Linked DNA regions of Homo sapiens: regions 2, 3, 4, 5 and 6 are each reported to be linked to region 1. The links are microRNA targets in miRTarBase. Many come from high-throughput screens and were not tested one by one. Region 1 holds a microRNA gene; each other region holds the end of a gene's coding sequence.

Region 1 (5,277 bases):
GAATGGCTAACTTTTGTATTTTTAGTAGAGTCAGGGTTTTGTGATGTTGGCCAGGCTGGTCTTGAACTCCTAGTCTCAAGTGATCTGCCTACCTCAGCCTCCCAAAGTGTTGGGATTACAGGCGTGAACCACCGCACCCGGCCCATTATCTTTATTTTTTAACACAAACACACACATGGTCAAATCAAATACCTCTTGCCTATCATTCCCTTGGCCTGGCAAACATGGACTCAGGACCCAACTCAAAGGTCTCTGCCTATGGGAAGCCTTTCCCAAATTTGTGAGGAAGGGTGGCTGTTTTTGCCTTTCATTCACTGATTCAGTGAGTAGTTGTTGAGAGCCTACTGGGTATCAGCCCCTGGAGCTATCACAGTCAGCTACCTGAGGATAGTCAAGCAGCCCCATAAAGGAACAATTACCCCCTGGGACAATGGCCTTGAAGCAGAGGTTCCTGCTGTGCAGAGAACAAAGAACAAGGTCCCAAGAAGACACCTGGAGGCTGCAGAAAGCATTCCTGGGAAAGTAACCTGTGTGCTCAGAGGGGAAGGTGGGCAGAAGCCCCAGGCCTCTGTGGGATGGAGGAGTGCCAGGGGAAATGAGAGAGGCTGGAACAGGACAGCAGAGGGGGAGGGGCTCCAACCAAGCCTGGGCATGGATCATGCAGGTCTTTTTAGGTCATGTTGTCCTAAAGCAACAGGGAACCCTAAAATTTGGGTGGCTGGGGGAAGGGAGTGTAGATATTTGCACTTCAAGAGGATCATTCTGATCTCAGTGAGGCCAGTGATCTGCCAAGGAAGCACTGTGTCCACTGAGGCAGCTGCCAGGCAGGAATGGAAAGGGAGGAATTCAAGAGAGGCTTTAGGAGACAAGAGTTGACTTGGATGCAAGAGTTGATGGATCTAGCCGACTGACCACCTCCCCCTACTACACTGAGTGCTTTGGAGAGGCAAGTAGGACCAGGTAGTACTCGCCAGGGTCTCCTCCTTCCTAAGAGTCCAGCAGAGGCCCCATGCAGGGACTATGTTTTCAGTACCTTGGAATCCCTACCCCAAGAGCAGGGGCTGGCATGCCGATGGTGGTCCAGAGATGCTGGGGGGCCATGCCGCCGCTGCTGCTCCAGTCCTCCCTTGGCTGCCAGATGACCCCCACCATGGCAGCCTCCAGGAACTCAGGAGACAAATCCCAAGCAGAGCAAAGCCTGGGTCTTGCAGGCCAGCCTCTGTGTGCAGACAGTCTCTATCCAGAACACACAGGCTTCCCAGGCCTAGCACTTGCTGGGTTCCCCAGCTCTGGGCTGACCAGACGCATGCACACACCAAGTCTGCCAGGGTCTGTTCCGGGTTCCATGTGTGGTGACTGATGTCTTGTGATGGATAGCTTCTGAGGGACAGTGTGTCCTGGGGTGGCTCCGGCTCTGCAGTGGGACAGGCTGGGCTGAGACTCCTGGCTCTGTCGCTCATTATCCATGTGACTGTGGGGAAGTCTTTAGCTCCCCAAGTCACAGGTCAGTTCGTTTGTAAGATGGGGATAATTCCATCTACCTCCCAGAGTTGCTGCGAGGCACAGACAGATTTCACATAAAGTACCTGCCCCAAGGCCAGATGTGTAAGAGAGACTCAGTTGTGGGTTGTTGTTCTTTGTTTGAGACACAGCTTAGTTTTTTTTGTGTTTTTTTAAAAATGATTTTTAGTCTCCTAGGACTTGTAGCAAACGGGTTAGTGTCTCCTGGTCATCGGAGCCATGCCATACATGCTATTAAATATTACATCAATTCATCTAACAATCTGTCTAAATCTGGTCAGAGGGACTTGGTTATGTCTGAGCAGCTCTGGTGTTTTAGAAACCTGTGCTCCTATCCTGAAAGTTTCTCATTCAGAATCCTAGCAGCCATGGTGGGAAACTCTTGTCTTTCTGTTCTAAGCCATTTAGTATATTATCTTCTATCTAGCAGGACACAAGGTGAAGGAGACAGAGCTGGGTTTTTGCAGACACAAAGATCTGGGTTTAATCGCACCTCTAACACTGAGCAACTAGACAGCCTAGCGCAGACCTCTCGATTGGGGCAAAGGGCTGTGGTGAGGACTTTGCCCTTGAATCTCAGTGTTCAGAGAGTAAGCCGCCCAGAGATTCTTCCAGACAGCCCTCTGGTACTGTCCCTCCCCTGCTTAAATCCTTCAATGGTTATCATGCCTTTAGCATGGCTGTCCCTCCATTCATCAACATGTACTGACCTGCTATGTACTGGGTGCTTTGTGAGGTACTGGGGAGGGTGCAGCGGATAGGAAGTCCAGGGTCTTTCCCCTGCATTTAGGACCCTGCCCCGGCCCCTGCCTGTCCTTCCTGCCTTGTTGCCCCTTGCTCCGCACCCCATAGTGCACCTTCTAGCCACACTGAGTGCTTGCAGGTCTACGAATGCACAAGGCATTCAGTTCTCCCCTGAGCCTCTGCTCCTGTTCCTTCTGTTGTTACTCACATAGTCCTGTTTCCTCCTAACCTCACCGTGTCCTGCAGTGACTTCACTGTGGCCCTCAGTACAGTCTGGCATGCAAGGGAGCTTCTGGGCAACAGTGGGGTGCACACTGGCCATGGAGCCCAGCAGACCTGATCCCACTCTCCTCACACCCTCCCTAGCTGTGGCACCTGGGGCAAGTGACATCCTCCCTCTGCGCCCCCTCCCCTCTTCTGTAACATGGAGGTAGTAACATCTGCCTCAAAGTTTTATTTCGAGGGCTACAGGCGACCTGATGTAGGGAAGTGGTGAGTGGTAGCCACTATAATTGTCTGTGTAGTTTCTAGCCTGTCACTCTTCCTAGACTGTGCACTCCCTCAGGGCAGGAGCTGCACTTCTGCTGCCTCAGGATCCCCAGTGTTGGGGGAGCAGAGCCTGGCGTGCATGCATGAAATGAGCATGTGTGAGGTCTTGGGGAAACATGTCTCTTGAAATCAGAAGGCTTTTTGGCTTTGAAAGAGTTAAAATCTGCTCGTGATTATAAACAAGCTCCATTTCAGCTCCGCACTATCACTAGGTGTGAGTCACAAGGCTTAGCAGGTGTGGGCAATAATTAAAGGCTTCAGCAATCTACCTGGGCAAGGTATTTTTGCCTCTTATTCCAAAGAGGAAACTCTCTCTATGGAGAGCAGAGGAGCTCATTAATGAGAGTAATTAGGTGTAAAGGGGGTAGGGGCTGGCATCAGCTGCAGCTTGGAGGAGCTAATCATTAAGCTCTGTAATCTCCTCCGCTGAACACCAGCAGATCAGGTTCGGGGCTGCGAGCAGGGCTCCCCCACCTGAGTACCTGACCATGGGCTTTGGAGAGGCTGAAAGACCTTACCTCTCCCCCTGCCAGGTTCCACCAGGGGACACCGTGTGTGTGTGTGCGCGTACACACACGCGCGCGCGCGCACACACACACACACACACACACACACACACACACGCAGTGTGGGGTCAGCTGCCGGGGAAAGAAGCCTGAGCATCCAAGAAGACGCTTTGCTCTCAGTTTGCACTCACCTTTGAGGAGCATGTGCTGGTTTTACAAAGTTTCCTGGATATAAGGAATGGATCAAAGACTCTGTTTTTGGCCTCCACATGCGGAGGCTAAACTCTCATGCCTAGGCTTCTGGATTTTCTAGCCATTGCTAACATTTAGCTAGCACTGCAGCAGATTTCATTTTCTGAATCCATCTCCCTGGCCCATGGGCTCTGTGACTTGGGAACAAGGGGTTGATTCCCCTGGATCTTCAGTGGCTGGCATACCCCGGGTGCCATAGATCACTGGCTGCATGGTGGGGTGCATGGGAGCAGGTGGGAAGAGAAGAGATCGATGGATTTTGGCATTGTCACTTTTCTCAGTTCTGTGGCTTTGGCCAAGTCACAACCTCTCTGAGCCCTAATTTCCTCCTCTGTAAAAGAAGCTCAATCATAAATACGTTTAAAATTTCAGTAAAAATGGGGAGAGGCTGAATGTCAGGCAAGTGGGCAGGTAAATCCAATGAAGGCCCCACCCTGAACTTGAGCTAGTCAGAGGGCAACGTGTCCCAGGTCAAGGCTACAGGAACAGAGACTCGCCCCCGGAACACTGTGCTCTTAGATGCCAGCGCTGTGGGGCATCTCTGCACTGTTCACAGACAGCGTCACCTTGGCTCTGGGCTCTGCCGCCAGCCCCAGAGCTGCTAGCCCAGCCCTGGAATCTTTCTGCCTCAGCTTGATACACACCGAGACTTCTGGGAGGCCAGGAAGGAAGCAGCTGGCTCCTGCATCCCCCATGAGTCCCACTCCCTAAAGCACCCCTTTGATCTTCTAACCTGTAGCCATGGCCAACAGGAGCCTCTTGGAAAGTTGGCACCAACTAAATGGCATGTGTCCAGCCAGCAAGCCTTGAGCATGAGTGTGCTGGCATCATCTTCCTTGTCCTTAGAGCCCAGTGCTGGTGCAAGCACCTTGGTGAAACCATCCCTGATATCCAACTCCTCACCCCCACCTCATATGTTAGTTCCCATACCTTCCATGGTCCCCCAACCTTCTGGGCACCCTCCACCCTCCTATTGACCACACATTTGCCTCTTACACTCCTCTGGGAATAGGTAATAAAACTCTCTTTTCCCATTGGGACTGATCCTGCCAACCCCCTGCCCAGCCACAGGGGTGGGCATGCGACCCTGGGAGCCGACTGGAGGACTCCATCCTCTGGTCACACCAATGAGTTTAGGGTAGCCCAGAAGTGATCGACACTAACTTGAGCAGTCTCCACTGAGAGTTGCTGCACAGACACTGGAGTTGAGAGGGACTCACTTCAAGCTAGAAGGACCATAGAGGCCCCCATATTTCTATAGCAAAGCAAGAGAATGTTTGAAAATAAAACAGATAATGAAAAGCAAAGCCAAACAGAGGTCACTGAGAGTCTAGACATCATTTGAGCTCCTGGATCCAGCCATGCTGGTAGCAAGACAAGTCCGGGATGTCTCAGTTATATAAGCCAAGAAATTCTCCCTCCTATCCTCTTTGCTCAAGTTCGTTTAAGTTGGGCTTCTACCATCTACAATCAAGGGAAGGCAAGCCAGGGTTTAACCAAGTCTAGGGCCCAAGTCAGCTGGCAGGTTTGTTTACCTGCCCCCTCCACACCAATATTATTGCTGGTAACTAGAGCAGGGTCTTCAGAATGTTTTCTCTCTTGTGTCTTTTAGTTACGAGCCAAGGTCACAGTTCTTGGTTTTCTCCCTGAACCATGAGCAAAGATACGGCAGAACCTGAGGCTACTCTCAGACCAATGCGCATGG
Region 2 (5,277 bases), not on the chromosome of region 1:
ATAAATTCTTGTACTTTTCTGTTTCATTTTGTTGTTGCTGTTGTTATTGTTACATTCAACTCTATCAAAAACATAACTGATCAAGACTGGTGTGAAAGTCATGAGAATCAGAATGGGGTCACAAATGGTAAGAAAACCCTGAAAACAGAGCTGGGGGAGGCCATGAAAAGAGGGTTCTCAGGCTTGTATGCCTGATAACATAAACAATCACAAAAGACTGCAAAAATCATAATCCTCCACAAAAGCCATCACAACTTCACACAAGAAAATTCTTCTGCAAGGGCATTGACCCGGAGACTATCTGTCCAAACTCAGACTAGCATCACTCTTGTGATTGATCTTTGTGGTCAAGGATAATTATTTCAAAACAATTATGCAATCCTCCTCTTTTTTTTTTTGTCTGAGACAGAGTCTTGCTCCGTCACACAGGCTGGAGTGGAGTAGAGTGGCATGATCTCAGCTCACTGCAACCGCCATCTCACGGGTTCAAGCGATTCTCCTGCCTCAGTCTCCCCCAATAGCTGAGATTACAGGCACGCACCACCATGCCCAGCTAATTTTTTTGTATTTTTAGTAGAGACGGGGTTTCACCATGGTAGCCAGGCTGGTCTGGAACCCCCTGACCTCAGGTGATCCACCTGCCTTGGCCTCCCAAAGTGCTGGGATTACAGGTGTGAACCACCACACCCAGCCCCTCATTTTTATCTTTAAAAACCTTTGTCTTCCTTTACCTCCCTTGAATACGCATAGTTTACTAAGGCTTGTGTATTCCCATTGCAATGCTCTATTCCCAAAACAAACATCTTTTTTTAGAGAGCCTTTCTCTGTTTACTATTTAGGTTGATACTGGCAAAGGGAAAAAAGTATGTATCAGTTGCAGGATCCTTGACCTAGGCCTTTGCTACTCAAAGCGTGGTCCTGGAAGGGTAGTGTGGACATCACCTGGCAGCTCATTAGCAATGCAGAATCTCAGGCCCCACCCCAGACCCACTGAATCAGAACCCCTACTTTAACAAGACTGCCTCTACGCCCAGTTTTTGTTTTTACTTTTCAGCTATTTATTTTTTATTTCAATAACTTTTGGAGTACAAGTGGTTTTTGGTTACACGGATGAATTGTACAGTGGTGAAGTTTGAGATTTTGGCTCACCTGTCACCAGGTAGCATACATTGTACCCAATATGTAGTTTTTTATCCCTTACCTTCCTCCCACTCTCCCTGCTTCTGAATCGCCAATGGCCATTATACCTCTCTTTATGTCTCTGCTTACCCTATAGCTTAGCTCCCACTTATAAGTGAGAACATAGAGGTTTGTACATACAGATTTAGTCTTCCATTCCTGAGTTACTTCACTTAGAATAATAGCCTCCACTTCCATCCAAGTTGCTGCAAAAGAATGATTTTGTTCTTTTTGATGGCTAAGTAGTATTCCATGCTGTATTATGTTTGTTATGCCTGATAACATAAACACATTTTCTTTTTTTTTTTTTTTTTTTGAGACAGAGTCTTGCGCTGTTGCCCAGGCTGAGGTGCAGTGGCGCAATCTCAGCTCACTGCAAGCTCCGCCTCCCGGGTTAACGCCATTCTCTTGCCTCAGCCTCCCGAGTAGCTGGGACTACAGGCGCCCACCACCACGCCCAGCTAATTTTTTGTATCTTTAGTAGAGACAGGGTTTCACCATATTAGCCAGGATGGTCTCGATCTCCTGACCTCGTGATCCGCCCGCCTCGGCCTCCCAAAGTGCTGGGATTACAGGCGTGAGCCACTGCGCCCGGCCAAACACATTTTCTTTATCCACTTACCAGTTGATGGGCACTTAGGTTGGTTCCATATCTTTGCAATTGTGAATTGTGCTGTGATAAACACCATATGTGCAGTTTGAGAAGCACTGATGTAAATTCTCTTTAAAACAAACAAACAAACAAAAAAACAGACTAGATCGGACACAGTGGCTCATGCCTGTAATCCCAGCACTTTGGGAGGATGAGGCAGGTGGATCGCTTGAGGTCAGGAGTTTGAGACCACCCTGGCCAACATAGTGAAACCCGATCTCTACTAAAAATACAAAAATTAGCCAGGTGTGGTGGTGCACGCCTGTAATCCCAGCTACTGGGGAGGCTAAGGCAGGAGAGTCAGTTGTACCTGGGAGTCAAAGGTTGCAGTGAACTGAGATAGCGCCATTGCATACCAGCCTGGGTGACAGAGTGAGACTCTGTCCAAAAAGAAAGAAAAAAAAAAAAAACAGACTAAACACCATGGATACAAATGACTGGCTGAGCACTGTTTCTATTACCTCAATTTGTATCCTGAAGAAAAGACATAGAAATGCGACCCGATTTTGAGGTCAGACACCAAACATAATATTTTCAAACAACACATTTCTTGATAGGTTCAAAATGCAAAAATAAAAACAGATATAAAGGTTATAAGAAGTTTAGAAAAGAAAACTCTGGAGAGGCCGGGCATCGTGGCTCACACCTGTAATCCCAGCACTTTGGGAGGCTGAGGTGGGTGGATCGCTTGAGGCCAGGAGTTCAAGACCAGCCTGGCCAACATGGCAAAACCCCGTCTCTACTAAAAATACAAAAAAATTAGCTGGGCATAGTGGTGGGCGCCTGTAATCCCAGCTACTCGGAAGGGTGAGGCAGAAGAATCACTTGAACACAAGAGGCTGAGTTTGCAGTAAGCTAAGATTGTGCCACTGCATTCCAGCCTGGGCAACAGAGCGAGACTGTCTCAAAGAAACAAAAACAACCAAAAACAAACTTTGGTTTTTTTGAAGATATAATTCAAAATAAAGTAGATGCTTTACAAATGATAATCGAGCTGCCAAAATTCAGAAACAATAATTACTTTGACCATTCATTACACCACAGCTTTGTATTCTCACCTTTCAGTTACATCATATATATATTTCCTTAGGAACCACTAACTCTCTGACATATCAGCTTCCCAGCTGAAAATGCATTTACCTCTGCAGCATTTAGAATTAAAAATTATGTTTTCGATGTATATTTTCAGTCTGAAAATGTCTCCTCCACTCCCTGAAAACAACCCCAGCCAGTAAATGCAATTCTTTGAATAAATAAGGTGGGCTTTTTTGTTTGTTTTTTCATATATTCTGGCAGGGTCTTGCTCTGTTGCCCAGGCTGGAGTGCAGTGGCAGGATCACAGCTCACTACAGACTCCACCTCCTGGGCTCAAGCAGTCCTCCCACCTCAGCCTCCCGAGTAGCTGGGACTACAGGTACACACTATCATGCGCAGCTAATTTTAAAATTTTTGGTGGAGACGGAACCTCACTCTGTTGCTCAGGCTGATCTCTAACTCCTAGACTCAGGCAATCCTCCCGCCTCAGCCTCTTGAAGTGCTGGGATTACAGGTGTGAGCCACTGTGCCTAGCAAACAAGGTGTGTTGAATTAATTAATTTTAGTTAATTTCCAAATAATTTTTCTACAGCAGTTTTTAAAGATATTATGTACATACAATAAAATGCCCAGATCTTAATTATCCTACCAGATGACAATGTTATTAACCCATGTAATCCCCATGTCAATCAAGATATAGGACATTCCCATCACTCCAGAAAGTTCCAAGGAAATGTTTTTTCAGTATTCCCCAGCTGTACCTGCCACACAGAGGCGGACACTTCTACTGTGGGTTTCTTATTCTTATGTGGCCAGAAAATGGAACCAAAGATGATTTTACAACCGAAAGCTGATAAAATAGCATTAACAATGGTAAAGTTCCAAGTTGCCTATGAGTGTTTTTAATATGCTTTAATCTTCCATCAAAAACTTGTCTGATATGTGACTGTAAGGAATGAAAAAGACCTTGAGCTTGGTTCAATTAACAATGTAAATGTTGATATAATTGCCAAACATTGGCTATACTTATACGGTTTCTTGATCTCTCTATTTTCTTTAAGTAGGTTTAAGTGGGTTTTCTTCCAATGGGAAAAACGAGTACTCCTGCCTGACCATTTCTGATACCAAAGAGAGCTACAATATAGAGTGAAAACAGAAAATTCACTTGAAAAAAACTTTTGATTCTGTATTTGGGATTGAAGTTGTGCATTAGATAAGCTGACTGTTGTGTCTTTTGTTTTAGTCCAATATATTTTAAAATTGCATCCAGAGAGGAGTCTCTGAATGCCTTCTTCTTTCTTGGAATCAATTTACTCCATCAATTTGTCAGTAGGTCACTTTTAGGAGACAGGCAATGAAAACTGGCATAGTCATTCCAAGAAACTTATGAGAAAGGAACTTTTAGCTTTTGGTACACTGCAAATGTAAGTTATCAGTAGTATTAGTTTCACTCATAAACCCACGTAACAAAATTCTGAGGAATAATACCAACACAAAAAGCATGAGACCAAATATGATGCATTCCCAGTTATCCTTAATCAACATGTCCATATCCTAGAGAGTCACTTTTCTCTCTAATTACAAGTCACAAATGTGCTGGCATTGGAGATCAGAGCTCTGTTTTGGGGTGTGTCGCTGCATACTTGGGGGCCAGCTCTTGAATGAGATTCACATAGTCAGTTTTTTCTGCACAGGCCCTGCACTCCTCCCCCCAGCTATGCAGGATCTGCTTCAGCTCTGCCACTCTCATCTTCCGCAGGTCAACTGATGCCAAGTCCAGTGTTTTTTCTAAATGGCAAAAAGGAAAAAAGCCAATTACAAAATAAATGGAAAAAAAATCCCTATGAATCACTTCAAAAGGCATATAGTTTGCTTATCTTGGTGCTGACTACCCTATGATCCAAGGCAGGGAAGAATTCCAGTTTCCATGGAAACCAAGACACACCCAAGGAAAATGTGGTACAGCAGCCCTCTCTATCAGTGGGTTCTGCATCTGCAGATTCAACCAACAGCAGATCAAAAATATTCTAAACAAATTAAAGATAACACTACAACAATTAAAAAATACAAACAGGGCTGGGCACGGTGGCTCATGCCTGTAATCTCAGCACTTTGGGAGGCTGAGGCGGGAGGATTGCCTGAGGTCAGGAATTCGAGACCAGCCTGGCCAACATGGTGAAACCACACCTCTACTAAAAAAAGAAACAAAAAATTAGCCGGGCATGGCGGTGGCATGCCTGTAATCCCAGCTACTTGGGAGGCTGCGGCGGGAGAATTTCTGGAACTTGGGAGATGGAGGTTGCAGTGAGCCGAGATCACGCCATGCACTCCAGCCTGGGAAACAGATTGAGACTCTGTCTCAAAAAAAAAATACAAACAATACAGTATAACAACTATTTACAATGATATGG
Region 3 (5,277 bases), not on the chromosome of region 1:
GGTAATTTCCTTCTGATATGAATGTGTAGAGATACTTCTCAATTATTAATTGCACTTAATGAAAGTTGATTGGCTATATAAGAATTTATTATCCACATCTTTTCCAGCTAGGTTAGAGAGGGTATCTGTGACGTATTTAAATCTTGATCATTAAACAAATAAGTAAATAGGATATTTCTTATTTATTTATTTATTTATTTATTTATTTATTTTGAGACAGAGTCTTGCTCTGTCACCCAGGCTGGAGTGTAGTGGCGTGATCTCAACTCACTGGAACCTCCGTCTCCCAGGTTCAAGCGATTCTCCTGCCTCAGCCTCCTGAGTAGCTGGCATTACCATGCCCGGCTAATTTTTGTATTTTTTTGTAGAGATGGAGTTTCACCATGTTTGCCAGGCTGGTCCTGAACTCCTGACTTCAGGTGATCCGCCCACCTCGGCCTCCCAAAGTGCTGGGATTATAGGCATGAGCCACCATGGCTGACCAGATATTTCATTAATGCGTGATATTTAATATTTATTGTCAAAATCAAGTTTCTTATCTAAAATAAATGAGTTAGTTGAAAACAAACTAATCATGCAATTATCACGCAACTCAGCAGTTGTATTGCTGGGCATTTATTCCAGAGAAGTGAAGTCTTATGCTTCATATCCCACCCTCTACCCTCGCCCCTGGCAAAAACAAACAAACAAACAAACAAAAAACCTGTTTCTGAAAGTTCATAGCTGCTTTATTTGTAACAAATAAAGTAGTATTCCATTGTGTCTTAAAGCCACCCAATGGAATACTACTCAGCAATTTAAAGAACTGAACTATTGATACATGCAACAATGCCAATAGAACTCAAGGGCATTATGCTGACTGAAAAAAGCCAATCCAAAAAGTTTCATACAATACGATTTCATTTATACGTTTCTTGAAATGACCAGATGATAGAAATGGAGAAGAGATTAGTGGCTGCCAGAAGTGAAGATGGGAGGGAAGTGGGTGTAGCTACAAAAAGACAACGTGAAGAATGTGGCGATGGGAATGTTCTGTATCCTGGTTGTGCTATTGTACTATAGTTCTGCAAGATGTTATCATTGGTGAAAACCAGGGAAAGAATACTCATGATCTTTTTCTATTATTTCTTACAACTGCATGTGAATTAACAATTATCTCAAAATTTTTAAAGTTTAATTTTTAAAAATGATCTGTGATTTGTATTTAACCTTTTTAGTTTTCCTTTGGATTGATTTATGTATCATATTATAATGTATAGGTTGCAATATGATCTTAACATAAAAGATTCCTTTTATTACTAACATATTCCACATTCAGTTATATAGAATATTCTCATTATTAAAAAGGTTCTTTTAAGCTGCTCAGCCTTGTTACATTTAGAAGACTATAAATATATAAAAATACAAACACATACACAGAGATTTCCTTTGATAGTTTTGACCTACCTTTTGGTTTTCTTGTTCAAAGTGTTCTTTCCTCTGTCTTTTCTCATATTTTTTAAACTTTTCTGTGACTTTTTTTTTTTTTTTTTTTTTTGAGACGGAGTCTTGCTCTGTCACCAGGGTGGAGTGCAGTGGCGCAATTTCGGCTCACTGCAACCTCCTTCTCCCGGGTTCAAGCAATTCTCCTGCCTAAGCCTCCCAAGTAGCTGGGACTATAGGCGCACACCACCATGCCCAGCTAACTTTTGTATTTTTAGTAGAGATGGAGTTTCACCAAGATGGTCTTGATCTCTTGGCCTCGTGATCCATCCACCTCAGCCTCCCAAAGTACTGGGGTTACAGGCGTGAGCCACTGCTCCCGGCCCACTTATCTTAATACTTGCAAAATTTCAAAATGAGAAAGGAGTAAATTTGGTTTTGTACATAGCATCTTTAAATACACTGCTATCCAAGGGAAGTATTGAGAGCCGTGTGTTGGGAATGGGGATGAAGGAAGTTCTCTCCCCAGAGAGCCTCGAATCCTTGCGTTGACTTTGAATTCTCAACAATCAACTGTGCTGGTAACAGAATAGGCTGGCCCAGATAGTGGGTAGGAAGGTGCAAGCTGCAGACTCATGCTTTAATAGTGGCCCCAAGTGACAGTGGCAGGGACTGCAGGCACTCAGCCGCATCCAAGACCACCGGGCTGAGGAAGGGCGGCTGTCCTTGCGTGGGTGGACATGAAGGTCAAAAAAGTCCTGGAGGGGGCCAGGATGACTTAAGGCAATCAAGGCCCAGATCTGCATGCCACATGGGTGCAGGGGGCCAGGGTCACACTCTGTCCTGGCACTGCTCCGGGAAGGGAATTGCAGGCCATTTGTCCTCCTCAGACATTGGATCGCCCTCTGGAGGTTCAAGAGTGAAAGGTTTGAGGGGATAGGGAAATGAAGAGATCACAAGACAGATGTACATCCAGTCTTGACACTCAATGCCAGGCAGTCTTCCAAAGCCATCCTCTCCTACCCTGGGTATTGTCCTCCTTTTCCATATTTTTGGTTTTGGTGGTGTGCAATGACATCCCATGGTGGCTTGAACTTTTGCCACTTCAGGATCCGTTTTGCTCCTATTCCCCAATTCACTAAGAGTCACCACCATCCACCCACACCCTCAAGCCAAAACCTAGGAGTCCTCCTAGATTCCCCTCTCCTCCCTCCACATCAGCAAGTTCTGTTGGTTCCACTCCCAGATAGAGCCTTTTCTCTCCATCACAAGCTCCCTGGTCCAAACCATTATTGTCTCTCTCAAATCTTCCAAAGCTCCCCCTCCATTCCCTTTACCGTCCCTATCCCCACTCACTGTCCACATGCAGACAGAATGGACTTTCTGAAATGTGAATCAGATTCTGGCATCGCCTCCAGTTTACTAGACTCCAGCCAGCAGACCAAACCTCATCTTTGACCATGTCAAGCCCTTGTGCACATACTACGGACTGTCCCCTGTCAGAATGAATGGTGGTTACATCCTCTTCCTTTAGATCTCAACTCAAAGGTCGCACTTCCATGGACTTTTTCAAATTAGGCACCCATATCTAAACAAACCCAGCCAACTACTCTATCACATCACCATGTTTTTTTTTCCTTCTTAGCATTTCTGTAAGATAATTGGAGAGTCTGATATTTATTTATTGTTCGTCTCTTCCACCAGTATAAGTTACATAAAAGCAGAGATTGTGTTTATCTTGATCACAGCCAAATCCCTAGCATCTGGCATAGTGTCAGCTCAGAGAAGACATTCAAAAGATATTTTTGAATGAATAGATAAAACCATTTCTTCTTTAAAAAAATTACTGTAAATGTGGCTACTACACCATGAAAATAGACCAAGAAGCATGAGAGTTACACAATAGACATTTATTCACTTCAACATCACAATTTCACACGAAGTTGGAGGAAGCCCTTCCCTAACAAAACAAGCATTCGCATTAGGGGAAGGAGGCTGACCTGCTCTAGGGATGAAATACATCTACCAAGATATAGATAAAAACAAAAACAAAACAGATGGTAGAGCCAAAAAACAGAGACATTAAAGGAAATGAAAAACGTTATACCAAGTAATGTTTATAAATCCAGATCATAAGTGAACGTAGGTTACAAAAATGGAAGTTGTAAGTATTGTTATTCTTGTACTTTTCACACAAACAGAATTTTTAGAAAAGCTTAAGGTCAGGGAGTGCTAGAGAGTTTCTGTATGGCAGGCAAGAATTCTTCCTTTTGAACAAGACCGAAAAACCTCAGGACAAAGAGAAAGTATATCTTTTAAAAACTGATTTCATAGTAATGTTTCTACATATTTTGAAGCACCTTTATGTATTTAGAGCATATCAAATTAATTCATTTCTTTCCCTGTTAATAAAAAAGGTACATTCACAGAATCAGTGTACTTAGAATAAAAAATAAACAGAGGAAATAAGAACTAACTCGAGTTAATAACAACATCTTTAAGGACAAGTTTGGTCATTTAAAAACTAAGTCTTGTTTTGTTTTGCTTGTTTTTAATTACTCCTTTCATACTTAATATTTCAAATATAGCTGCTTCAGCAGGACAGCTTTTCAGTATCACAGTAAGTACAGCCCAATACAGGATCATCCAAAAACACGTTGACACTTCCAAGACACTGGCACGGGGTCCACGGAGTTTTGCGCGTAAAATTTTAAAAACCCTTCCTACGGTGATGTTTAAGGCCAGGAGCATTCATTTCTCAACCTTGTATCAATCCAGGATCCATCGGACTAGGTTTCATTAGGCAAGAGAGTAGTTCGTTCCTCCTCTGTGCTGAGGATGTTTTGAGATTTAGACCTACATTGAGGGAAAGAAGAGATGAATCTCAATATTTCTCATCTTAAAAACAAACAAACAAACAAAAAACCAGTACCTGTATCTCCATCCAACTATCTTTTTAAAAAAGTTTCTACTGCCCGGGCATGGTGGCTCACGCCTGTAATCCCAGCATTTTGGGAGGCAGAGGCAGGCGGATCACTTGAGGTCAGGAGTTCGAGACCAGCCTGGCCAACATGGTGAAACCCTGTCTCTACTAAAAATACAAAAATTAACTGGGCATGGTGACCCATGCCTGTAATCTCAGCTACGTGGGAGGCTGAGGCAGGAAAACCGCTTGAACCCGGGGGGCAGAAGTTGCAGTGAGCTGAGATTGTGCCACTGCATGCCAGTCTGGGTGACAGAGCAAGACACCATCTCAAAAAATAAAAATTAAAAAAGTATCTACCAACTGATGAGCCTCAGAGTGCTTAGAAATCCACTGACTGGAAGAATAAATGTAAAATGTTATTTATTTTCCACTTGCACTGGCTAACTTTTAAAGAGAGAAAAAAAGCCCCAAAATTGACCATACCTTTTTCTCCTTGAATACTCCAGTAGATAAAACAAGCCCATGGCTAATCCCTTAAACACAATTAAAAGTACTGATTAATGTAAATTTTCCAAGTCAAGTTTTTCCACAAATATAAGGAAAATGCAAATAAAAGACTGATTACTCACACTTATCAGAGCCCATAGACCTTGTATAGCTGCTGCCCATTCAAAACCAATTTTCTCATACAGAAATCCACCCAGCGTTGGTCCCATAAAAGCACTAACAATAGAAAGAAGAAAAAGTATTCAATAGTGCAAAAAATAAATAATTACTTCATGAAAAGCTACATGATCCTTCAATTGTAAGTCTTCATTACATTGGAAGATAAGTACTAAAGATAAAGCTAATTCCTGGGCACAGCATTCAGTAAAAGAAAATAATTCTACCTGATAATGACATTCAAAATTTTTTAACAATTTTGAAAT
Region 4 (5,277 bases), not on the chromosome of region 1:
GATAGACAGTAGAGAAACAAATGCAGGTAGTGTAGGTAGTGAAAAAGGCAGTGAGGGAGATGATGGCAGGGCCAGGTGTGTTGGAAAAGGAGGACGTGCTCTTTCCCATGGAGTGAGTGGGCATGGCCTCTGCAAGGAGGTGATGCCAAGCAGGGAGCTGCATGAAGGGGACAGTGTGGCTCCTTGGGGGAAGAGCTGCTCAGGTGGAGGCAGCGCTAAGTGTCAGTTTCCCCAGGAGGGAGCAGGTTTGGTGCATTTGAATGGGGAGGCACTTGGGTGAGGAATGGGGTGGGTGGGGCCTGTTCCTCCTGTCCCCCTTGGTGAAGACTCAGCCTCTACCCTGGAGACACTTGCTGTCACATGAGACATTGCAGGTGGAGGCCTCTGGGATGCTGCAGGCACAGAGGGCAGGGGTGATATGGAGTGGTGATAATTTGAGTTGGGTCTTATGGGCTATGTAGGAGTTTGCCTCACAGACTCCCCTCTCAATGACTTCTTGACCATGAGCCCACCATCTCCTTAGCTGAAACACCAAGGCCTCTGTGGCAGTAATTGGAAGTCACGAGCCTCCTGGTTGCCGAGGGCTCCTCAGGGCACCTCGTAGATGTGTCCAGGGCAGGCTGGCTTCCCTCCTGGGTCACTGATGGGCCCCTTCCAACTCTCTCTCTAATCTATCTGCTCCAGCAACAAAAGGAGTCCTGCTGTGGCCTCCAAGGGCCCGCAGGACTTGGTCCCTAGTGACACTCTGGCCATGTCTCTGCTGCGCTGGGCCCCGGGCTGCTTTTTGAATGAGACAGGTGTGTTCCTGCCTCTGTGACTTTGTGCTTGGCCTGGAGTGTCCCCACATGTGCCATATCCTGTCTCCTCAATCAGGCCTGCACCACCCTGGCACACTCGGTGCCCTTTTCTGACTTACTCTTCGGGGCCTGGCTCAGGCTGTTCTTCCTTGGGCTAGAGGCTGTCTCTGTCCAAGAACTCCCATTGTCCCAGCTCCCCGGCTGCCTCACTTCTCCATGCCCACAGGGGTGGAGGGCTTCACCAGCCAGGAGGACCAGGAGATGCTGAGCCGCATCGAGAAGCAGCTCAAGCGCCGCTTTGCCATTGGCTCCCAGGTGTCTGAGCACAGCATCATCAAGGACTTCACCAAGCAGGTGAGCCTGCCTTGGAGTGGGGGTGTGAGCCGGCACGGGGTGCAGGTCTTCTGCTGGTTCCCACCCACTCAGCACTGGCATCTTACTCAGCAGACAGGCCCTGAACGGGGGTAGGATGGACAACTGTCCCTTTCTCAGACCTTTTCTAGCCATCATTCCTTCCCTAGGGACATCTTCATCAGGAGCAGGGATGGGGGTATTTTTTCTGTCCCACGAAGGGGAGGGGAGAGCAGAGGTGGTTGGATTCTGGTGAAACCCCATACAAGTTCCCCGCAGCCCTTCCCGTCTGTGCCTTTCCCCGTTGGCGGGCGTTTCATGGAGTGGGAAGGGGCAGAGCCATGAGAGTGAGCTTTCTGGCTCACTGAGGAGGGTACTGTTGGCCCCATAGAGAGAAGATGGGATTTCCCAGATGCTCTGGAAAACCTGTCACCTTTAAAATCTCAGGATTAATCCTAGTTTCTGGTCTCCGCTCCTTGTACATCATCTCATTTTGATTCAGGGCAGTTTAATGGGTGGTATCGTGTCTATTCTATAGGTGCGCAGACTGAGGCTTAGAGAAAGGTTTAGAGCTTCGGTTCTAGAGTCAGATGGGACTTAAGTCCCAGCTCTACCTCTTAATTGCTGTGACCTTGAGCAAGTGGCTTAGCCTCCGTGTGCCTCAGTGTCTGGTACACAGTGGGCACTCAGGAAGTGTGGGCCCTTTAGGTCAAAGGAGCCTGAGTACAAAGTTCCCCGTGAGCCTGGGGATGTCTGGGCTCTGTCGGAGTCCCCTCGGGCAGCACGTGCCGTTAGCCAGCCATGTGCTCCCACAGAAATACCCGGAGCACGCCATCCACAAGGTGCTGCAGCTCATGCTGCGGCGCGGCGAGATCCAGCATCGCATGCAGCGCAAGGTTCTCTACCGCCTCAAGTGAGTCGCGCCGCCTCACTGGACTCATGGACTCGCCCACGCCTCGCCCCTCCTGCCGCTGCCTGCCATTGACAATGTTGCTGGGACCTCTGCCTCCCCACTGCAGCCCTCGAACTTCCCAGGCACCCTCCTTTCTGCCCCAGAGGAAGGAGCTGTAGTGTCCTGCTGCCTCTGGGCGCCCGCCTCTAGCGCGGTTCTGGGAAGTGTGCTTTTGGCATCCGTTAATAATAAAGCCACGGTGTGTTCAGGTATCTGTGGGTTTGTGCACTCGGTGACCTGTCACCTCCATCGTGCCCTCATGGCAGGGTAAGTGTGAGGGAACAGGGTCTGGAGGCAGACTGGCCAGGGTTTCTGACTTGGATCTGCCACTCAGACTTCTGGGTAAGTCACGTGACTTGAGTGCTCCGGTTTCTTCATCTGTTTAGCGGGGCTCATAAAGCCACTCCCTTGATGCTGGGAATCCAGTGAGACCAGGGAGTGGGGAAGCGCTTCTCAAAGTGTGTGATTTTGATCCGCCTCACCTGTTCCCCAGTAACTTATTGGGGGGCTGCGAGCCGTGGTGCGGCGGTCAGACTGCCTGGATTCATGGACCCTCTCCATGCCTTAGTTTCCTTATCTGTAAGCAGGCTGATACTAGAACCTGCTTCACAGGGTTGTGCTTAGGGTCAGTGAGCAGCTGTTAGTGAGGGGAATGTAGTGGCCACCAGGCAGGAACTAGGACTCCAGCCAGTTCTTTCCTGGTGGGCCACGTGTAACTGTGTGGCCTTGGGCGAGACATTTCACTTTTCTGTGCCTGAGTTTATCAGTAAACTGGAGATGGGGGGATTCCTCACCCTGAGTTGTGAGGATTGAATGACAGAAGGCACTAGTGACAGTGATGCTGGAGGAAGGAGTGTTGCCAAGTGCCTCGGTCACTTTGCCTAATTTCAGAAAGTCACTCTGAGTTGGTATGTTTTGTGTTTTTAAAAAAGCTAGGATTCATAAAATTAAATAGAAATCAGTGAAATAAAATATTTGATATTTAAAATACATTTAGAAATACAAAGTGTCAAGCAAAACGTGAATTTGGAAATCTATGGAACATTAGATAAGGTATTTAAAAGTAATTGCCATGTAAAAATGACACGAACTTGAAGTAAGATTATTTGATTTTTCTAAAAATACAAGAAAGCTTGGTGCATCCGCCTGGTCATTGTTGAATCACAAATGTATTTTTGTGCAGAAGATTCCTGCAGCTCAAAGCCCTTTCTGATTCCATACTGTTCGGGGAAATGGAGAGATGAGAGGAGCTAAATCAGCTTTCCTCTGACTCACTCCCGTTCAAAGCTCATTTCTTTTCTGATAATTTTGAGAGTGTCTGGAACAGCTTTTGTTTTCTTGGTGGGGTGGCAACCTTACTGGGCGCGCTGTGGGTTTTGCATCCAAGGCTGCATCTCCGGTTCCTGCTAGCCTTTCATCTTGCTCAGGTGGGGACTCGCGTGCATCTCAGGCCCAAGGTCCTCCCGTCCTGCTTGTTCATGGAGTGTGGAACTCTCATGAGGTTCACCCTGCAGTGGCAACTTTGCTGGTGGCCTTTTCTCCACCCCTGTGGTGGGTGGTGCTGCTGTGGTCACCTCTGTTTTACAGGTGGAGAAACTGAGGCTCAGAGAGTCAAGTGTCACAGTGAGGGAGTGCAGGGCAGGCTTCAAACCTGGTGGCTCCGAACTCCACCCATGTCACCTTTTCTGCCAGATTCTCTCTTGGCAGTCCCTGACCTCGGCCTGAGTGGGATGCTGGGCAGAGACAGTCCTGGCCTGGGGGAGGCAGGTGCCAGTCAGGTGGGGGAGACTGACCCTGGGGTAGGTTCCCAGGGGTAGGTGGCCTGACTGGCAGGCACAGGACTGAGAGGCCAAAGGGGGTCCGACTGGCTTTTCCGTGGTAGTTGGGGTAGGGCTCATAGGAGGAGCAGCTGTGCTCAGAGCATGCCAGTCTCCTTCCAGATCGGGGCAGCAGCATGAAGAGAGGCCCCTGAGCCAGGGAAACACCTGCTTGTTGGGGAAAGCAAAGGCTGAGGAGAGAGCCTGAAGGGAGGCCAGGAGAGGGGAGCATTCAGGCTGAGTAATAGTTGGGGCTCGGCTTAGTGGAATCTCCAGTCAGGCCTCAGTGACACCTAGAGAGGCAGGGAGGTGGGGCAAGGGGGGGAGCTGGATTCCCGAGCTGGTGCTGCCACTCAGGGTGGCTGAGCTCTTCACTCACCTGTGACCTGGCTCCCTTAGGCTTGTCTTCTCAGATCTGTCCCTACCCTCACCAGCTACAGGCCGCGACCCAGCGGACATTTCTCTCTGCTGAGCAAATCACTTCACCCCTCAGCCTCCTTTCATCTGTAGAAAGGGCACAGCAGTACAGTAGCCCTTTCACCCAGGGGTGGCTGTGAGGATTAACTGAGGGGGTAGACATCAGAGCAGCTGGGCCTGGCCCCGGGGAGGTGCTCCCAGGAAGGGCTGGGTGCCTGTGGTTTTCCCTGCCTCACAGCCTCTGCCATCTCGGATTTCACCTTTTCATGCTTTTGTGTGAGCAGAGGCCGAGCCTCTGCTGCTGTGTTCCCTGCCCCACTCTACTCCTGGCTGCATGGGTCTCTCAACTTCGCTCACCACTATGAGAGCCGCTCCACCCCTTCTCCAGTTCCAGGTCTGGGAAGGAGAGAGCAGACAAGCTTGCTCATGATGGAGTCCTTTTACCTGGTTTCTCTCTCTGTTCACAGATACCACCTCTGTTGATCTGGGAACTAAGACCATGTTGCTTGTCCTTAGTCACATATGACTTAATTTGCACCCATTGTGGGCCACTGGTGTCAGACAGGAAGCCTAAGCGCAGGTATCACTGAGGAGGATACACATGCTAACTACACGATCTTCACCAGACCTGTGAGCTTCCAGCCACCAGATCCAAAGTCACAGAGCACAGGGACTTACAAACCCAGTGCTGGAAAACATAGCAAAGGCTATATCCAATTTAGGTTTCTCTTTATTGGAAATAAAGATGGCCCATACTTCAAATATGTTATTTAGAGAATGCTTATAAAGAGCAGCCTAAAGTCCCATTCTCTTGCCTGTAAGCAACAAAATTACAAAAATGTTGAATTTCTAAAATGCGAAAGTTAAGCATTCCAGAGACCAGCTCATGGAAGAAGGTTTTATGTTTTTGGGTGTTGTAACTATTATCCATATGTATTTAAAC
Region 5 (5,277 bases), not on the chromosome of region 1:
TTGAGGAGAGCAAAGATTAAGTTTGTGGGCTTAGGAATCAGAACTTCTAGATTTGAATTTAGTTCTATCAGTTCTAGCTGTGTGACCCAGGGGAGTCTGTTTAACATCTCTGTTTCTTGAGTTCTCTCAAATATAAAATGGAAGTAATCGTATCAACTTCAGAGGTTTGTTATGGTCATAAAATGGATTAATATATGTAAATTCCTTAATAATTGCTGATTGTGCTCCAAAAGTTAGATGTTATTGTTATTAGGTGGTGTTTTGGCAATAGTAATACCTTTAAAAAACAGACTCTCTGTCCTCGAGGATTTACGATGCAGTGCGACAACCCTGGCCAATGGCTGGGGGATGTGCAGATACCACCACATGATGAGTGTGGGTCACGTGTCTAGCCCTATAATCACGAAGTCATTACTAGCACCTGGGTCATGGTACAAGCATGACCTCGGGAAATCACTGTGACTAAAGAAAGGCAAATCCCGGTAAGAGTCTGCACAGATGCTCACGGAAAGTGTACTCCAAATCTTGTCTCCTGCTGGGATGGGAGAGAAGAAAATGTTCCCAAATGGAAATCCATAGATACGGGTGAGATGGGCTGAGAGGGTGAGGAGACTTACATATAAATACACCTGTGTAGAACAGGCTGCTCTCACCTGTGAGTCCCAATAGCATAAAGAGGCAAGGGTTGTCCAGGTGGGCTGGAAGACAGGTATGGTCATTGCCTGCTCTGTTGAAAGTTTATCACGGAGAGACCCCAGCCTCTGAGCTCTGCAGGGAAGGAGAAGCCCCACCTGCCATGATATCTGAGGAGGGAATTTGCTGTGGAAGGAAAAGGCCACGAGACTGGCATGGTCTCATAGTAAAAGAGGAAGCAGGCAGAGTTGCCACCCCTGGGAAGTTGCTGATATCCACCTTGGGGTTCCCACGCCTGGGAGCCTTGGACAGTAGTGGAGACAGTTTGACTGCTCTGGGCCTGCTCTCTGTCCCAGGGGCACTCACTTCATGCCAGGGTTCCCTTGGCCCTTCCTCAGTTGACAGCCCTGATCCACAGGGCCCTGTAGCTAAGGACTGAGTTTGGATTTTCAGAGACTGTAATTCTGGGTGTGGAAAGTTTGAGGTCTTGTTACTGTAGCAGCCTTTAAGGATGGAACCAAAACTCCTGGATGTCCCCTGCAAAAAGTCCCTAGGGCCAACATCAAGTAACAAGCTGAGCAAATAAGAAATGGCAACTCTTCTCAGGTCTGTCAGAGAAATGAGGTCACAGAGCAGACCATTGTCTCCAAAACTGGAAGTTAGACAAAATGATATAGAGAATTACAACTTCCTGAAGCCAAAACCTCCATGGGAACCAGTGCCAGGGTAGGAAAACCTGCACTGTAATTGAAGAATTGCTAGAGGCTTGGTGTGGGCCAGTCTGAGGAACAGATTCCAGCAGGACCCAATCGCAGGGAACTCCAACACTGTTGTGAGATTTACCTCCAGGAGCTTGATTAGGTGCTCAGAGTGAATATGAGAGAAACATTCACTTGTGCTTCCTGGGGGGTGTGGAGGGGAAAGCGAATCATTCTGAACTACACCAGAGCATTCTTTCTTCTTACCAAGCCCAGCTCTCAGGAGAAACTATTTTACCAGTGCCTAATCTGCTGGGCTTTGATCAGAGCCTAACCTACCTGGGGAAGGCAAGCACCCAACTCCAGCCCCCTCTGGCCATCCTGTCCCACCATAGGGGAAAAAACTGAGAGGCACTTGTGAAGTCCACAGGCCAGGGGCACAGGCTCACATAAGACTGCAACCTCATGTAACTGGTGATGAGCCCATGTGACATTTTTGGGAAACAAATAATTGAAAGAGAGATTGGACAACCACAGTGAAAATGCAGTGAATAAATGAGCAGTGAAAATGCTGGAGATAAAGTTCAAATTGTATGTCAGTGGAGTTATAGAAGCATGAATAGCTGGTGAGGCAACGTAGACCCTGGTAGTGTTTGAAAAACTTCAGATAGGCAGCCCGCAGGACTTAGAGAAGGTGAATTTAACAGATACGGGATGGGGTACTGACAAATAGGGCGAAGGTGTCCCTGAGGATGTGACAACAGCAAAAATCTTCACGTGAAAGGAACTTTTGCAGAGATTTCACGACACTGAAAGTGCAAATGATAAGGTGCTGGAAACAAATCCAAACTTAGAGAGGAAGGTGATAAAACACCCAGATAGAAAGGATGTTTGCTCCATATCCGAAGTGTACAAGAAGGAGGTAAGCACTCTTCCAACTACTCTTGAAACATTTTTACAAAGAAATAAAATACTGAAACACTTGATGTTTCCAATGTTTTGAATTACAGGGTACTAATAAATATTCATTTATTATTTTTTATTGCCTTCTACATTTGTAACTGACACTATGAGAGTTTCCTATATTTTGACAAAAAATTGTAAAGGTCACAATATGATCATTGTTTTTCTGATTGGATGTGGAGATTGCTTTCCTGGGTTTCCGGCTGCACAGTCATTCTTGCAATCTTGCACTGCTGTGAAAAGCGAGGGCTGCCTGTATTCGTTATAATGCTTATGGTAATAAATGCTAAATAAAAATTAATCAAGATAAGAGAAATTAGAATGCCAGGGTAGACAGGAGAATTGATATTATGTACAGGGTGGTTTGCCAAAGGTGCCTTTAATAAAGTGACATTGAGCAGAGGCTTGAAGGAGGGATGAAGGGAGCCATGCAGCTGTGTTGGGGAAGAAGCAGAGGAGTGATACAATTTGACTTTTCCAAAAATCCCTGTAGCTGAAAAATGAAAGCCAACAGAGGCTACAGAAGTGTTCCCGGAAGAGATGATGCTGGCCGGGACAGGGAGGGGTGATGGAGGTGAGAAGTGTGCAGGTTAGGGATGTAACTCAGTGCTCTCCTGCAGCAGGCTTGGACTGGCCCCTGAAAGCCAACCGTTAAGTTTCAGGAATTTTGCAATCCAGTTGTTAAACTTCTGGTAGCTTGAAACTGGCCATGTTGGGGGTGATTATACCACAGAAATTGTCAAGTACAACAAATCAGCTTTTTTTTTCCTTTAAGAGAGTCCATTTTTAAACACTTACCATCTCACGAGTGGACATAAGTATTTTGAAGGCAGAATTGAATATGGGGTGTAAAGAGACATCAGGGAGGATTCGGGAGTCAAGGAGGCTTTTGGACTGCGGCAGCATTTCCGCCATGAGCAGCAGGGCGGGGAAGCCTGCAGGATGCTAGAACTAGTGTTCCCATCACAGAGAGAGCAGGGAGAGCTTCTTTGTTTCTGAGTGTGAGGAGTAGGACCCTTAGACAAAGAGGAAGGATAATCTTTTTATTTTCTTAAAACCACTTTGGGAGTGCATTTGTATTCAAGAGGCAATAGAGAACCTCAACAAGGCTGGGGAGTTGGGATAGGCAGGAATCTGGAAGGCAGGATAACTCTTGAGAACCTGGAGAGCGTCTGTGGTTTACGGTCAGTCTCAAGGCGATGGATGGGAGTCCTGGTGTGTTTAGATTTGGCATGTTTCTCGCCTTCTAGGGAGGTGCCGTTAAGTCAGTGCCCAGAGCCCAATCCCATGGCACCTGCTCAGGACCATGAATGAAGACCTTGCTCTGGGGCATCCAGGTCTGTGTGAAGGAGCAACAGGAGCCTGTGGGCAGGCAGATGTCTTGGGAGGGGAGATGTTTGGAGCCAAGTCTAGAGAAGCTTCTCACTGGCTCATTCTCTCAAGCTGAGCCTCTCAGGAAAGGAAGGAGGCAGCAGAGATGAGGGTCCCACGTGGCAGGGGAGGAAGGAAGGAGCTGTAGGAAAACACATCCACACTTAGTCATCTGCTCATCTTTCAAGACATGTTTCCTGAGAGTCTGTTATGTTCTCGGGGCTGGTCTCCTGGGATACCTGTCACTGGTGGACAGGCAGTCCTGATAGAACTCTGCCTGCTCAGCCATCCTGCCAAGTCCTGATGCCCTTTCCAATATTCCTTCCACTCAGACACACAGAGGGTCAGAGCACAAACAGCCTTCAGGGCTTCCCATTTGGGTTTCTCAACATTAGTTTACAATGTGGATTTCTCTGACCCCATGGAGTCCCAGCATTCAAATAATCTACAGATAGCCTGCAAGGGACCACCCACTCATCACTGCCTCCATGAAACTCCTAGGGCACTGTGGACATCTTTGAACACATTTCAAGCATCCCACATTGTACACCACCCACATAATTTCTGTGGGTTGGGAGCCTTTTAAAGGGTTCCCCAAGACTTCCGAGGGTGCGGAGGGAGCTTAACTCCACGGACCCTGGTGCTGCATGGCATGTGGGCTGGGCCTTCCTGTTGGCCTTGCCCTTCTGAGACAGCCCTTGGTCTGTCCTCCCTTCCTTGTACTTACAGTCAGGTCTTCTGCTTCCAGGGGACGTAGATGGGGCCCAGGAGGACAGCTATGAGGAGCAGCGCAGTAAGGGATGATGCCGGGCCTGGAAATCAGGGAAGACGAGGGGCTATGAGAGAGACCACTTGGGAGGCCATTGTAGGGGCCTCCACTTACCCCATCTGAGGCTGCCTGGGCCCATCTATGCCCCACCTTTGAACCTGCATCCTGCCCAGGCTATCTTCACTCCAGCACAAGGCAGAAGCCACAGAAAGAGGCTCCCCATTCTCACTCATCCTGTCCCAGGTTGCCAGCTTATTCTCCTGGAGGGAAGAGGTGGAGGGGGTGTGTACTCAGGTATTCATACATGTGGCAACGGGGTTCCTCACTTGACCCTCACAAGCCTATGGGAGCAGGGATTGTCATTCCATTCTGCTAGGGAAACTGAGGCCCATGGATTTTAGGGAGGGTCACAAGGTTACTTGCATTCAAACCTAAAGAAGCTCATCACTAGTGTTCCTTAGGTTGATCCCTGAGACCATGTCCTTTGGAACAAAACAAGTCCAAATTCCTAGGGACATTTTAATGACTATAAAAGGGTAGGCAGGTGGCTTGAGGATGGCTTCACAATGAGAGTTGCAGGTTCCCTGCTTAGCCCCAGAAGTAAGGGGAGGACTCCGTGTTCTCAGAACTTGGAGGAGCCATGGAACACTGGACATAATGAAACCTTCCGGCTAGAAAACATCCTGGTGAGTCACGGAAATGGGTCTCATGCTTGGGAGGGCCTCAGATGTCACCTAGGCCACCTCCACCCCAGTGCAGGTGTCATCTGAAATCTTTCTGTTAGTTGGGCACACTCAGTTACGGGGAAGCACATGTTTGGACGCTGCATTTTTAACATGAGCA
Region 6 (5,277 bases), not on the chromosome of region 1:
ACCAAATAAGGGCAAAGTTGCTTCTCTTGCCTCGCCCGCCCCCCTCCCTTCCCCTCTCCGCTTCTGCTTTTCCTGAAGGAGAGTTCTGAGCATCCAAAGGCTCCTCACTTACCTCACTGACTCCCTTTATTTCCTGGGTTTACTTTCCCCATTAACACTGACATCTAAATCTCTAGAGGAGTATGTCATCCCTTCCTCCCTGGTTCCATATTCTAAGTTTCAGAATCATGATCTTTTTCTGCACTAACGTCCCACAGTCCTCAGAGTTTCTCACAGTTCATTGATGTGTACTGAGTATATAATTTATACTTAGCCCCCACGGCGGGGTGGTTCTCAGAAGTGGAAGACAGGTGGGTCTTTGGAGAACACGGTGGGAATCTTGGTGCACTGACTAACTTGATGGGCGCTTGGTTCCTCTTCCAGCCAGCTGAGGTGGGTGTCCTGGTTGGCAAAGACCGGTCAAGTTTTTACGTGAATGGGCTGACACTTGGGGGCCAGAAATGTTCGGTGATCCGGGACTCACTGCTGCAGGATGGGGAATTTAGCATGGATCTTCGTACCAAGAGCACCGGTGGGGCCCCCACCTTCAATGTCACTGTCACCAAGACTGACAAGAGTGAGTTCCTGAGTCTTACCCTTCCTTTAGCTCCAAGATCTCTAATGTACCGCCTTCTGGTAATCTTGAGGGTGCTTTTTTGTGTGATTCCCCAACATGAAGGGAGTCAGACCAGTATTGTGTTCCTTGTCTGCTGGATGCTGGAACACGGGATAGTCCCTCCATTCTGTCTCAGTTCCTCATCTTGTAATTCGAAGTTGCTGAACTGCATTACCTCTTAAATTACTTACTGCCTTGAGCTCGGATTAGAAACTGTTTTCTAGGAGTATAGGTAGATTGTTGGGGTCTTGAATCATCGAGTTCATCGTTTGAGTTCTTTTGTTAGAACCTGGAGGTGGCATGCACATCCACAGCCCTTTCTAGCCTGAACACATGAATCAACAGTCTATGAGCCTTTGACCCCTAAGTTTTTAGTCTGTTCCTCTCCAGCGTTTAAGCTTGATTTTCCTCTTTTGAAAAGCCTTATTGTTTCAGGGTGACTGACAGCCTGCCTGTGTGTGGTGGGGGGGCGGGTTGGGAGAGATGAGGTTGGGTTACAGCCCCCAGGGCTGGACAGCTGCTGAACAGCTGGCAGGGGGTGGAATTGTGACACCTGGATCCTAGCCTCCTTTCTCTTTCCTCCTCCTCCAGCGCTAGTCCTGCTGATGGGCAAAGAAGGTGTCCACGGTGGTTTGATCAACAAGAAATGTTATGAAATGGCCTCCCACCTTCGGCGTTCCCAGTACTGACCTCGTCTGTCCCTTCCCCTTCACCGCTCCCCACAGCTTTGCACCCCTTTCCTCCCCATACACACACAAACCATTTTATTTTTTGGGCCATTACCCCATACCCCTTATTGCTGCCAAAACCACATGGGCTGGGGGCCAGGGCTGGATGGACAGACACCTCCCCCTACCCATATCCCTCCCGTGTGTGGTTGGAAAACTTTTGTTTTTTGGGGTTTTTTTTTTCTGAATAAAAAAGATTCTACTAACAAGGTGCTGTGTGATTTGAGCTTGGGTGTCAGAATGGGGGATAGGCACTGTGACTTGCCTCCTTTATCGTGGCTTGGGAGCAGGGAGGTTGAGGTACTACAAGGTGCAGGAATTTGAGCTTCTGGCCAGGTGGCCCTGCCCCTCCACAGTGGCATTTCCAGGCCTAAGTCCTCAGTGTGCTGGTCAAATTGGTGGATGATGGAATAGAGCCATCTGGACCAGAGAATGGGTGCAGGCCTGCAGGCAAGGCAGGGCTAGTTGAGTCATCCTTGTGGGTGGGGCTCCCCCTTCTGAGTCATAGCAAATGCCGGCTGGGGCTGTCCCCATGACTATAGGTTAGTGTCTCTCAGCATTCCCTTGCTCCTTATGGCTAAAGGGGTGATTCCACCAAAGGGTTAAGTTCACCTGTGTGAGAATGATCTTACCCTTCCTTAGTCCACAAAGAAACAATTTTATTAGCCCAAGAAGTGAAGACCCAGTCCCTCTGCTTGCCCCAGCTCCACCCCAAAGCCCCTCAAAAGGATAGGTGTGGGTAAGGGAGAAGCTTGGGATGGAATGTCCCCTATCCCTCAGAAGACTGGAGGGAAGACGACGGTCTGTGCAAATAGGTCACCAGAGGTGTATGTGTGGGGGGTTATTAGACCAGGATAACAGGGGAAGAGGGAGGGGACAGTGGGGGATCTGTTGAAGGCCCAGGAAAAACAAGGGGAGCTGGGGCTAAGGAACCAAAGGAGGTGGGAAGAGTGGGGCTAGAACCCAAAAGTGGGGTCCTTTCTGAGGCAGGGTGGTCCCTTGGCTCCCCTTCATCACCCTCCTCTTGCCCTTGAGTTTCTTCCTCTTGGTCTTCGTCCCCAGGACCCCGATGAACAGGCTGCTTGCAAATGGGGCAGGTCTTCCGGGTCTGAGTGAGCCAGGGGTCCACGCAGCGGCTGTGGTAGGCTGCAGAGAGGAACAAGGTGAAGCACCTGGTGGCTGCTGGTGGCAGAGGGGCATGGGCAGGCAGTGAGGGCCTCACCATGAGCACAGGGGAGTACCCGCAGCTTGTCCCCATCCTCATATTCATCCAGGCAAATGGCACAGACATCATACTGGTCTCCTGGGACAGAAAGAAAATAATCTAGTCCTTCACTGAGCCACAATGACCCAGGGCTAAGGCTTTTAAAGCCTTGCAAAAATTTCCCCTCACCTACAAAGCCAGTGGAAGAGATAAGACAGGTAGGCAGGATAAGGTCAGGGCAGAACATGGAAGAATTTAGGGCTAGAAGGGACAAGCAAAGAGAAGCAGAGGTAAGAAGGGAAGTGGGTTTTTGGGGAGGTGTGAGGGTGGAGATAGGGAGTGGAAGGAACGGAAATGGGCAGGGCTTCTGCCACAGCCTTATACGGGCACTGGAGGCCCCAGGGCCTAAAGCCCCAGCCCCTTGGTACCGGTTTCTTCCTTCTCTAACTGAATCCTCCCCATTCCTCCCATTTTTCTGCTCTGTCCACATCCCCTATAAGCAAAGTCTATCCCTCTATTGTTTCCCACAATTATTTCACTTAATCATCTTTGCTTTCCATCTCCTCTCCCGTCTTCGTTGTATTTATGCATAAAAACAGAAGAAAAGACAGCATCTCAAGCTGAAACCTTCCTACTGCCATCTTTATTTTTATTATTATTTTTTTGAGAAAGGGACTCCCTCTGTCGCCCAGGCTGGAGCACAGTGGTGCAATCTCAGCCCCCGACAACCTCCGCCTTCCTGGTTCAAGTGATTCTCCTGTCTCAGTCTCCCAATTAGCTGGGACTACAAGTGCACACCACCATGCCCAGCTAATTTTATTTTTTTATAGAGATGGGGTCTCACCACATTGCCCAGGCTGGCCTGAACTCCCGGGGTCAAGGGATCCACTTGCCTCAGCCTCCTAAAGTGCTGGGACTTTTCTGTTTTATCATGTCACCCAGGCTGGTCTCAAACTCCTGGGCTCAAGTGACCTGCCCACCTTGGCCTCCCAAAGTACTGGGATTAGAGGCACTTGGGATTACGTGAGCCACTGTGCCCGGCCACTGCCATCTTTGTATACCCTATCTTCTGGGCTCAAAGTCCTTCAGAACCAGGTAAACTGTGGGAAAAGCCCTCTTCTCCCCTAACCCCCTCACCCTTCTGATAGTCATGTGTAGGAATCTGTTTCAGTTGCTCTTTGGTAAGTCGATTCCGCTGGAGCCGTTTCCGGTGCTGGATACAACGAGCTATCTGGGGGAAGCGGGGGTGGATGGACAAGGCTTAGGAACAAAACTAGACAATCTAGGACAAGCCACTCCCATCTCCCAACTCCAGATCCAGTCTGGCCTCACAGGCCTCAGTGCTTCCCATCATGTTCCCTCAGCTACTCACCATTACTGCTCCCATGGCCAAAACCAGCAGTCCCACAATCCCTGTGAAAGGGATGAGGTAATAGCCCAAGGGGAAGGTATTGTCTGGAACCAGAAGCACCCGAGCCCTGGGAAAAGGATGACCAGTCTCAGCAGGGCGAGAAAGGCAAAGGGAGAAAAAAAGAGGGACAAAGTAACTGGCTCTGGACAAAGCCCATAGGTGGGGACAGGAATGGGAAGAAAGTCAAAGAGGCAGGGAAGGAAGGACAGGAGGCTGAATGGTTCGGGTAATGAGGAGGCCTGGGCTCCAGGTTGGCATGGAACTGCTTGCTGAAGGAAGAATGGGAAGGAGGCACATGTCCTACCCCTTCTCGTAGACAAAGAGGGCACGCAGGTACTCGGAGCTTCTCTCCCCAATAAATACAGACGGGATCCAGATCTGCTGCTGGATTTCCTCTGCAGGGATCAAGGTGTTACTCTGGGGACTCACAACCTTCTACTCAAATCCTCTGGGAACCCTGGCATCTTGCACTTTGGCCCCACCCCACCTAAAGGATTGGCTTCTTTTCCTGAGGCCTTCAGCCTTCCCACCATCTCTGGGTCCTACTGAAAGCCCAGCTGTATAGATTCCCCCAGCCTTACCACTATTCCACACCATGTTCAGAAGTTCATTGGAATTCACATTGTGTACTACAGCGGCACCATATCCAGCCTTCTGGGCATTTAGGACCTAGGGAGACAAGGCAGAGGACAAGGAGCCATCATGGGCCTTACCTGTCTTCATTCCTGGTGCCTTTTTTTTACCCTCAGCTGCCCAGCTCCCCTTCCTCATTCAGCAACCTTGAGGTCAAAGTTGCAGTCGAATCTTCGAAGCAGCGCAATAAAGACTGACCCATTGACCGGGGCTGGGGGTGGTGGGGCAATGGGGCTGCAGGCATTGTCTGGGTGAGCCTCCACAAGGAACCCCTGAAGGATGGAAGCAAACAACAGTGAGATTTCTCCTTTCTAGATTCTGCTCTCTACAGGGGCCACCAAACACACCAGCCCACATGCTGCACATCCTCTATCCTCACTTCCTCCTCCTTCCTGGGGTCTGAGTGAGCATCCCACCATCACAACCTTCTCTTAGCCTCTTGAAAAGGCAATGACATAAAACATCCCTTCACCAAACTCTCCCATCATCCCTCTCGCTGTCCCAGATGGGCTAATCTGTACCCTATACTGCAAGCTAATGCAATTATTTTTGCCTTCTAATATTCCAATTGTAATTCAATTCTCAAACCACCCATGTCACTTTCTCTCAAGTTCTGTTTCACAGTCCCCTCTCCAGCACATACTCA

The links. Region 1 holds the annotated microRNA hsa-miR-7150 (CUGGCAGGGGGAGAGGUA, at 3,330-3,347, opposite strand). A microRNA usually pairs through its seed, bases 2 to 8, with sites in the 3' UTR of a target mRNA and lowers its output. Matches are read on the target gene's strand: a 7mer-m8 pairs with bases 2 to 8, a 7mer-A1 pairs with bases 2 to 7 and ends in A, and an 8mer does both.
Region 2: miRTarBase lists CDNF as a target of hsa-miR-7150. The part of its 3' UTR that is shown has no 7-base or 8-base seed match.
Region 3: miRTarBase lists SLC18B1 as a target of hsa-miR-7150. Seed matches in the 3' UTR shown: 7mer-m8 at 3,671-3,677.
Region 4: miRTarBase lists MCM5 as a target of hsa-miR-7150. Seed matches in the 3' UTR shown: 7mer-m8 at 2,123-2,129.
Region 5: the mRNA of SIRPG is a reported target of hsa-miR-7150. Seed matches in the 3' UTR shown: 7mer-m8 at 3,786-3,792.
Region 6: the mRNA of PFN1 is a reported target of hsa-miR-7150. Seed matches in the 3' UTR shown: 7mer-A1 at 1,455-1,461.

What each region holds. Positions count from the first base shown.
Region 1 is chr9:123,482,255-123,487,531 of GRCh38, forward strand. MIR7150 (microRNA 7150) reads right to left here and starts at 3,368; the gene lies at 3,275-3,368. The region is part of intron 13 of DENND1A (DENN domain containing 1A); the gene reads right to left. RefSeq lists an enhancer at 64-929.
Region 2 is chr10:14,815,505-14,820,781 of GRCh38, forward strand. CDNF (cerebral dopamine neurotrophic factor) reads right to left here. Exons shown (of 4, transcript NM_001029954.3): 4 at 3,741-4,654. The coding sequence ends at 4,476. Among named protein-coding and RNA genes, the nearest start is that of CDNF, 20 kb to the right of the region's middle.
Region 3 is chr6:132,766,059-132,771,335 of GRCh38, forward strand. It overlaps SLC18B1 (solute carrier family 18 member B1), which reads right to left. Exons shown (of 14, transcript NM_052831.3): 12 at 4,978-5,071; 13 at 4,832-4,881; 14 at 3,312-4,278. The coding sequence ends at 4,212. Among named protein-coding and RNA genes, the nearest start is that of VNN2, 11 kb to the left of the region's middle. RefSeq lists an enhancer at 2,148-2,307.
Region 4 is chr22:35,422,191-35,427,467 of GRCh38, forward strand. MCM5 (minichromosome maintenance complex component 5) reads left to right here. Exons shown (of 17, transcript NM_006739.4): 16 at 1,024-1,151; 17 at 1,964-3,241. The coding sequence ends at 2,065. Among named protein-coding and RNA genes, the nearest start is that of MCM5, 25 kb to the left of the region's middle. RefSeq lists enhancers at 3,652-4,157, 4,158-4,665, 4,666-5,171.
Region 5 is chr20:1,625,830-1,631,106 of GRCh38, forward strand. SIRPG (signal regulatory protein gamma) reads right to left here. Exons shown (of 6, transcript NM_018556.4): 5 at 4,393-4,477; 6 at 3,323-3,807. The coding sequence ends at 4,395. Among named protein-coding and RNA genes, the nearest start is that of SIRPG-AS1, 5.0 kb to the right of the region's middle.
Region 6 is chr17:4,941,967-4,947,243 of GRCh38, reverse strand. It overlaps PFN1 (profilin 1), which reads left to right. Exons shown (of 3, transcript NM_005022.4): 2 at 424-616; 3 at 1,247-1,592. The coding sequence ends at 1,344. RNF167 (ring finger protein 167) reads right to left here. Exons shown (of 10, transcript NM_015528.3): 4 at 4,778-4,903; 5 at 4,580-4,667; 6 at 4,303-4,393; 7 at 3,960-4,065; 8 at 3,725-3,818; 9 at 2,606-2,686; 10 at 2,022-2,529. The coding sequence ends at 2,228. Among named protein-coding and RNA genes, the nearest start is that of PFN1, 3.9 kb to the left of the region's middle. RefSeq lists enhancers at 805-884, 1,555-1,724, 1,785-1,874, 1,885-1,934, 2,805-2,854 and 1 more.